2 linked regions of the Homo sapiens genome follow. The protein of the gene in region 1 purifies or fractionates together with the protein of each later gene. This does not show direct contact. Each region holds a gene or a part of one and is shown on either strand. Other genes may lie near its edges. The genes, in order: PRF1 and SRGN.

What was found.
Region 2: the proteins of PRF1 (region 1) and SRGN purify together in Homo sapiens (co-immunoprecipitation; one study listed by IntAct). This does not show direct contact.

The regions. Positions count from the first base shown.
Region 1 is NC_000010.11:70,599,885-70,604,471, reverse strand, and holds the start of PRF1 (perforin-1 precursor), read left to right. Parts: upstream 1-1,730; 5' UTR 1,731-1,827; intron 1,828-3,539; 5' UTR 3,540-3,569; coding exon 3,570-4,108; intron 4,109-4,587.
Region 2 is NC_000010.11:69,101,603-69,105,413, reverse strand, and holds the end of SRGN (serglycin isoform 1 precursor), read right to left. Parts: intron 1,544-3,811; coding exon 1,294-1,543; 3' UTR 609-1,293; downstream 1-608. UniProt on the Homo sapiens protein: Plays a role in formation of mast cell secretory granules and mediates storage of various compounds in secretory vesicles. Required for storage of some proteases in both connective tissue and mucosal mast cells and for storage of granzyme B in T-lymphocytes.

The sequences.
Region 1 (4,587 bases):
TATGGTATGTGAATTACATCTAAAGATTGTTGTTACTAAAGAAAACCATATACATGGTGTCTGGTGATTGAACAAATTACGCACTTGTTGAAACTTGTGTCTCTGAGGAAAAACTCTGCTTAATGCACATTCAAGTGTCAAGTTTCAGAAGGACAGCTGTCATCAGTTAAACGAGTCAAAAACAGTCATCACCCTCAATGTCATTTCGGCTCTTTAATGGATCCCCTAACAACCACTAGCATCTCTTGGGCATTAGCCACTTCATAAGCCACTTGAAACCTGCCAAGTGTACATTTTATCATTAGCTGGAAGGATGTGTAGAATTCCAAAGTCCTCTCTTTGATTTTATAGGTGAGGAAACTAACGCTCAGAAAGGGGGTTGATATCTATCGCCGTGAGGCATACGGTAAGTTTCTGGTGAAGCTGGGATCAGAACCTGTTTAGACTTTGCCTCTCTTTTCCCGCAGATACTTTGCAGGACTTCTATGTCCCTCAAACCGGCCTTCCTGTCATGGTCAGGAAAGAAACTCCTCACAGCCTCAGCATCCAAGTCAGGCCATGGGTGACAGCTGGAAAGTGATCAGGAGGCTGCAGTTTCTAGAAGAGGGTGGGGACACTGCGGAGAGAAGATGGGGCCAGATTCCGAGAAGACAGCATAAGCCCCTGTTCCTGTAAGAGCAGGGACGGAAGCAGGGACATAAACGCAAGGGATGAGCCCCAAAGTGTGACCCATGAGACATGATGTCACATGTGGTCTGGAGCCTGCGGCCACTTCTTCCCATCATATACACAGTTATGAGAACAAGTTGTGAGAACCACCTCCTCCCTTACCCAGCTGCCCCCACCCCAGAAGCCGTGTGATTTTGCCCCCCAGTGCCCTGTGAGTCACTCCACCCATGGAAACCTCACCCCACCCTGACCTCAAGCAAGGCAGAGTGCAGAAGACATGTCCTCCGGTGCTACCAGACCACTCTCACCAGCACCCACGACCTCAGCAGGGCTGGAGCCAGCGTGGAGGCCACTGGCTGTCCTCACAAAGCGAGGAGCAGGAGCCCCTGTTCGAGGAACATGCTTGGAGTTCGGAGCCTGGGCTAGGGTGGGATGTAGGTTGAGCAGGAAGTGGATGGCAAGATTAGAGCAACATCTCTCTTCTCCCACTCAGGGAGGAGGGAATGGCCACAGGCTCTGACACTCAAGAAGGGCCAGGCACAGTTCCAAGCACTTCACAACAACCCCTAGGGTCTACATGACCTACAATCCCAATTGTTCAGTGAAGAAACTGAGGCACAGTGAGGCTGAAGAACCCTACCAGTCCACACTGCTGGTGCATAACCGAGCTGCCCAAGCCCCGGCGGTCTGGCGTGTAGGCCCATGCTCTGAGCCGCCGCCTCTGCTTGCCTCTTACATCCCACACATGCGATGCTGTGCATCAGAAGCAAGGAGATGGCCCTGCTGGCCTGTTCATCAACACCAGGGCCGAGTCTCAAAGTCCTCAGCGCCCCGCCCTCCTCCGCCTGTGTGCCCTGAGTCCCCGAGCCCCAGCAGCTCTACTCGGCAGATGAGCCTCTGGCCCTGCTGCTCGCTTCCTGAGGGCTGTCAGTGGGGAGCCGGATGAGGGCTGAGGACAGGGTGGGTGCTTGTGGGAGGGGAGAGCACAAAGGACCTGTGACCACAGCTGGGGGCGGGGCAGGAAGTAGAAGTGATGTGAGTGGTGGCTGGTGCAAGGAGCCACAGTGGGCTGCCTGGGGGGCTGATGCCACCATTCCAGGAGCCTCGGTGAAGAGAGGATATCCATCTGTGTAGCCGCTTCTCTATACGGGATTCCAGGTAAGGAGAGAGCAGGGATTGGGGGGCCTGGGGCCCTGGGTGGAGGGGAAGAGGCTGATGGAGCAGGAAGTGCTGTGACCTATAAGACAAGACACCTGGGTCACAGACGGTGCCCATCACTAACTCGCTGGGCAGCCCTGTGTCCACCCTGGGCCTCAGTTTCCTCATGTATGAAATGAAGAGGTAGCGTGCAGTTTCTAAGGCCCTGCAAGTGCTGACATTAAAGCTTCTAAGAAAGCTGGAAAGAGGCTCCCTGGGACAGAATACCATGAGAGTCAGGATGAGGGCTGAGTTCACTGGATTAGGGTTATGACTGTGCCCGCCTCCTAGCTGGGATGAGCCCAGGGCCTTTGAAGATTCCCCTGGCCTCTTTGCCTCCCTGGGGCGAGCCACGCTGCCTGAAATTCCACCCTTCAAGTCACACCTTTGGGCAGGGCAGGAGGCTCCAGCTATAATGGGGGCTCTCCATAGCCCTCTTGTCTCAGAACCTGTGGTACCCAAGGGCAAAGGCCTTTGAAGAGCTCAGCTTGGATAAGGTTAGGCTTGGGTAAGGTTAGAGAAAGGAGGTTCCAGATCATAAACAGGCCCAGGCAAGGCCCCAGAAACACCTTAAAATTAGGAAGAACCTTCCAGACAATCATTGTCCATAGTAGGCAATAGGGGGGCCCCTGTCACTGCCGAAGGCCACAGAGCTTGGCAGGGAGTGGCAAAGAGGGGAGGGGCAGCAAGAAAGGATCTGAAGAGCAACCATCGAGGCCTCTCCCCACACAAAATCCAAGGGTGTGGTCAGGTCTGCCCCTTTTTTTTTTTTTTTTTGAGGCAGAGTCTTACTCTATCACCCAGGCGGGAGTGCAGTGGTACGATCTTGGCTCACTGCAACCTCCGCCTCCTGGGTTCAAGCGATTCTCCTGTCTCAGCCTCCCAAGTAGCTGGGATTACAGGCACCCGCCACCATGCCCAGCTAATTTTTGTATTTTTAGTAAAGAGGGGGTTTCACCACGTTGGCCAGGCTGGTCTCGAACTTCTGACCTCCAGTGATCCACCTGCCTCTGCCTCCCACAGTGTTCGGTTTACAGGTGTGAGCCACCACACCTGGCCAGGTCGGCAGATTTTATTCTAGAATTCGGGCTGATGTTATTCCATAAAGCTCAGAGGGAGAGCCCCAAAGGGAAAATGAGAAGAATAGGTGCAATATAGGACCTCATTTCTCTTCCAATTCTGTTAAGGGCTCAGTGGGAGGGAGAGAGGTTAGAGAGAGTGACAGAGACAAAGAAACAGAGTGAGAGTCAGGGTGGGCAAAGGGTGGCTTGTTCTGGGGCCAAAAATGACACTTCTTCAGAATGAAGGCTTCCTCAGGTCCCCAGACCCCTCCCTAAACCTGCTACAGCTACTCTGTCCCCTCTTCTGTGGCCACAGCCCCCTCCCCACCACCCACAGTTGTGTCCTGGGGACAGAGCCATCCACCTAGATCCCCATTAGGCCTTAGGGAAATTCTAAAAAGGGGCTCCCCTTGGCTGGGCTTTTCCCCTCTCTGGGCCCATCTGTACAATGTGGGGGCTGAACCAGGCCTATAAGGGACATACCAGCTCTGACATTCATTGAATAATGACTTAAGAGATATCTCAGCCCCTCCCCTTCCATGTGCCCTGATAATCTGTGGCTGTGGGGGAAGGGAGCAGTCATCCTCCATCCCTCCACCCATGGCTTCCCAGAGCCCAAGTGCCCCCTGTCTCTGCAGCTCCATGGCAGCCCGTCTGCTCCTCCTGGGCATCCTTCTCCTGCTGCTGCCCCTGCCCGTCCCTGCCCCGTGCCACACAGCCGCACGCTCAGAGTGCAAGCGCAGCCACAAGTTCGTGCCTGGTGCATGGCTGGCCGGGGAGGGTGTGGACGTGACCAGCCTCCGCCGCTCGGGCTCCTTCCCAGTGGACACACAAAGGTTCCTGCGGCCCGACGGCACCTGCACCCTCTGTGAAAATGCCCTACAGGAGGGCACCCTCCAGCGCCTGCCTCTGGCGCTCACCAACTGGCGGGCCCAGGGCTCTGGCTGCCAGCGCCATGTAACCAGGGCCAAAGTCAGCTCCACTGAAGCTGTGGCCCGGGATGCGGCTCGTAGCATCCGCAACGACTGGAAGGTCGGGCTGGACGTGACTCCTAAGCCCACCAGCAATGTGCATGTGTCTGTGGCCGGCTCACACTCACAGGCAGCCAACTTTGCAGCCCAGAAGACCCACCAGGACCAGTACAGCTTCAGCACTGACACGGTGGAGTGCCGCTTCTACAGGTGAGAGCTGGGGCTAGGGGTGGGGGGCTGGAAAAGGCGCGGGAAACTCTGGGTGGTCTAGGAGCCCTGGAAAGGCAGAGTCCTCCAATCAAACTTGGAGGCTGCTTCCACCAGGAAGAAACTGCAATCCTGGCTCTCAGACTTCAGGTGATTCAGCCCTGTGGCCTCCTCTCATCCAGGAGGTCCCAAATCTGGGAGTGCCCAGTGAGACATCAAGTAGAGAGAAAGTGAGTGAGACCATGCCTGAGAGTCCCAGCAGGGTGCCATTTAGGTCTAGTGAGTACTGAACCCTGCCTTTCCTGGGCACAGCCAGCCTTCCACAGAGTCCTTCCTGGATAGGGACAGAGGCAGGAGACCTGGCCGGGTCATCCTTCCTCATCGCTGTGTGACCTTGAGCATCTCACTTCTCTCTGAGCTTCAATCATCCACTCAACCAATACTCACACCTGCCTGTGGCAGGGCCACACTGCTGAGCGACA
Region 2 (3,811 bases), 1.5 Mb from region 1:
AAGCAAATTCTGAGATGGAAACTAGCAGAAAATTTCTAAGGGAGCACTCTCAGGATAGAAACCTATGAGCGGAATGGAAGGAAGTAAAATTGAGTAAAGAAGAAACTGAGCTACAAAGTAGTCCCAGCAAAACTGGAGCTGATCCTGTGGGGAGTTTTGAATCTGTATGACTATTCTGAGTTCAGGCCTTGATATGCCCACATCAGCCAGTCACTGGATGCAGGCTGCCCTGCAAAGCAGCATGACCTTGGGCAAGGTGGCTCTCTCCTGAGGAGATTAATTTGAGTAAGTACTCAGTTCTGGAGCTGGGATCTGGACAGTACAGAACAGAATCCAGGATGGTGATGTAAGGGGGCTTTTCAGAACTAAGGGGAACAGAGATGGAACTATCTTTCAGGTGAGGAAGTGCTTTGAGATATATAACCCTCTTGCTAAGGCATCATTGCTTTCTTCATTTGCTAGTTAGTATGATTTGATTCTGGTTACAAAACTTGTGTTTACTGTAGAATACGTTTAAAGTTGTTTTGTTGATAAGACTTCTGGAGAAACGTCTGGCCAAAAATAACTGTTTCCTGGGTTTAGAACAACAGATCCGAGACAGCTTAACCTTTGGTTATATTTCTGCTTTAATATATAGTAACATTTGAAAATACACAGATATCCAGGAAAAAAAGGTAAAGCAGTATGAGGTATTGACAGCACAACTGTGTTTTAATTTGGGAGTTAATTTGGGGTGTTATGTAACAGCAATCATACTTGTAGACAAACACATCCACTAGCTCTGCAAACACATTCAAAGGTAATAGTATATAGTACACTCCACCCTGTAAAATATGTCAAATACCCCCACTCTACAAATTCACTGTGTTTCATTATTTTTTTTTTTGTTTTTATAAGAAAAGGGGCATATCATTATAATTCACAATCCAAGTCAGAGTCTTAATTTAGGTATGAAATATTACCTGCCAATTTGCTTCTCAAGCTACTTTAAAAATATATATATATTCTTTAAAGCCATTTTATGGCCATGGGAATCTAATTAATTTCATAATGATGTTGGTTGAACATGATACCAAAAAATGCAGGTATTTTCAAGAACAATAAAATAGATAACAGCATTAAAGCATAATCCTTTAAGAATTCATGAGAAAAAAAAGGATGATAAAACTTAAGCTTCTTTTTCAGATGTTTAAAAATTTCTATAAAATTCTTTGTCCCAAGATTAATCATATAACCATGGTACATAAAATATGCTAACTACATTGCCTGGTGTCAAGGTGGGAAAATCCTCTTTTATAACATAAAATCCTCTTCTAATCCATGTTGACCCAAGTCCTGGCTGTCTGAGGGCAGATTCCTGTCAAGAGACCTAAGGTTGTCATGGAAAGCATCACTTTCGTCTACTAGTTGGTAATCCTGTTCCATTTCCGTTAGGAAGCCACTCCCAGATCCTGATCCAGAGCCGGAGCCGGAGCCGAAGCCTGATCCAGAGTAGTCCTCAGAAAGTGGGAAGATACGATTCAAGTCCTGGATTCTCGTCTTTCTGAAGTATGAAAGAAAAATGGGAAAAAAACCAGTGGAGTTTGATATGTGGGAAAGATAATTATAATAGTTTTTTTAATATAAGGAGATAAATACAGCCATCTAGTTGCTCAAATTAAGAGATTTAAAAGCTTCCCAATTATTCAATGTTTTAAAATCAACAAAAAAACAGGTCAAATGTTCCTATGTGTTTGCCTATACTTATTGCACCTATCAACTTCACATCTACCTATTGCAGACTTGCATAAACAGTGTTAATTTTGTTATCACTAGCATATACATTCTATATTTGAAATTTACTTAAGAAATCATTTTAATTTTTATTTTTGGAGGCAGAGTCTTGCTCTGTTGCCCAGGCTGGAGTGCAGTGGTGCCATCTCGGCTCACTGCAACCTCCACCTCCCAGGTTCAAGTGATTCTCCTGCCTCAGCCTCCCGAGTAGCTGGGACAACAGGGGTGCGCCACCATGCCTGGCTAATTTTTGTATTTTTAGTAGAGATGGAGTTTCACCATATTGGCCAGGCTGATCTCAAACTCCTGACCTTGTGAACCACCCACCTCCCAAAGTGCTGGGATTACAGGTGTGAGCCACTGCACCCGGCCCAAGAAATCATTTTTAAAAGAAGTCCTCTTGGCCGGGTGTGGTGGCTCATGTCTGTAATCCAAGCACTTTGGGAGGCCAAGGTGGGTGATCACTTGAGGTCAGGAGTTCGAAACCAGCCTGACCAACATAGTGAAACCCGGTCTCTACTTAAAATACAAAAATTAGCCAAGTGTGGTGGTGCATGCCTGTAATCCCAGCTACTCGGAAGGCTGAGGTGAGAGAATCGCTTGAACCCAGGAGGCGGAGGTTGCAGTGAGCCGAGATCGCGCCACTGCACTCCAGCCTGGGTTACAAGAGCAAAACTCCATACCCTCCACCAAAAAAAAGAAAGGACAAACAACTAACAACTAAGTCAGCCCAAACAGATGACATTTTTTCCTAAATTAAAATTTCCATAAAAGTTCTAACAATTTACAGGGCTTCAACAAAGCTCACTTTTGAGAAATTCTTTGTAAAAAGCTAAGCTTTATATTTACCAGCATATAAACATTCAATTTCCTATCAAAAAATGACCCTGCCTCCAACTTGCACTCATTCAGCTGAAGAGTGCTGAAAGGTAAGGCTGCCTTCTGGGTTGAGTGTGATGATTAGAAATTCAAAGAGCACAAAATGGCCAGAGCAATGACGACAGCCCTCGGTGACAGAACAGGGCAACAAAGCATCAGAGACAAAAGCTGAGTGTCACAGCCTACAAGTCATTTCCTCCATGAAAATAATAAACCACCAGCATACAACCAATTAGAGTTTTAATTCATGTACGCATTCAATAAATATTTGTTGAATATCTGGTCCTTGTTTTGAGGGCCTGGGATAGAACAGAGGCAGATCGATGAAGCCCCTTCTCAAGAAGTTTTTATTTTAGTGGGGAAGACAGACAATGAAAAGTGAATAAATAAATCAGGAAAATCATAGGTGGCACAGAGAAATGAAATTGACCAATGTAATAGGGAGTGACCAGGTGGCTACTTTAGCCTGGGGTGTCGGAGCTAGAATCACAGATTTGGTAGTTAAACCCATGCAACCGATGGAGGTCGTCGAGAGAAAGCATGTAGATAGAGAAGGGGGCCCAGGCCAGAGCCAGGGTCACACCAACATGTTAAATACTGAGCAGAGGAAAAAGCACAACCAGAGAAGTAGGAAGAAACAGGATAAGGCAGGGCATGGAAGCCTCAAGAAAAAAGCATTTCAAGGAAGGAGTGGTCAACCATTTTTTTTTTTACAGAAAGGGCCTCCTTCTGTTGTGCAGGCTGGAGTGCAGTGGCGTGATCATGGCTCACTGCAGCCTCACCCTCCCGGACTCAAGCCATCCTCCCACCTCAGCTTCCTTTGTAGCTGGGACCACAAGCATGAGTCACAACGCCCGGCTAATTTTTCTATTTTTTGTAGATAGGGTCTCACTATGTTGCCCAGGCAGGCTGGTCCTGAACTCCTGGGCTCAAGTGATCCTCCTGCCTTGGCCTCCCGAAGTGCTGGGATTACATGCATGGCCCAGTTAGCTGTTTTTGAAGGCAATTAAGGATCAAGTAAGCTGAAAATAGAGAAGTAATCAGTGACTTTGTCAACCAGGGTGGAGTGTAGGAACAGAAGTCCAGCCACAGAGGGGGTGAGGAAAGGAGGGGGCAGGCATGGGTGGCCCTTTCAGGAGGTGTTATTGTGAAGAGGAGC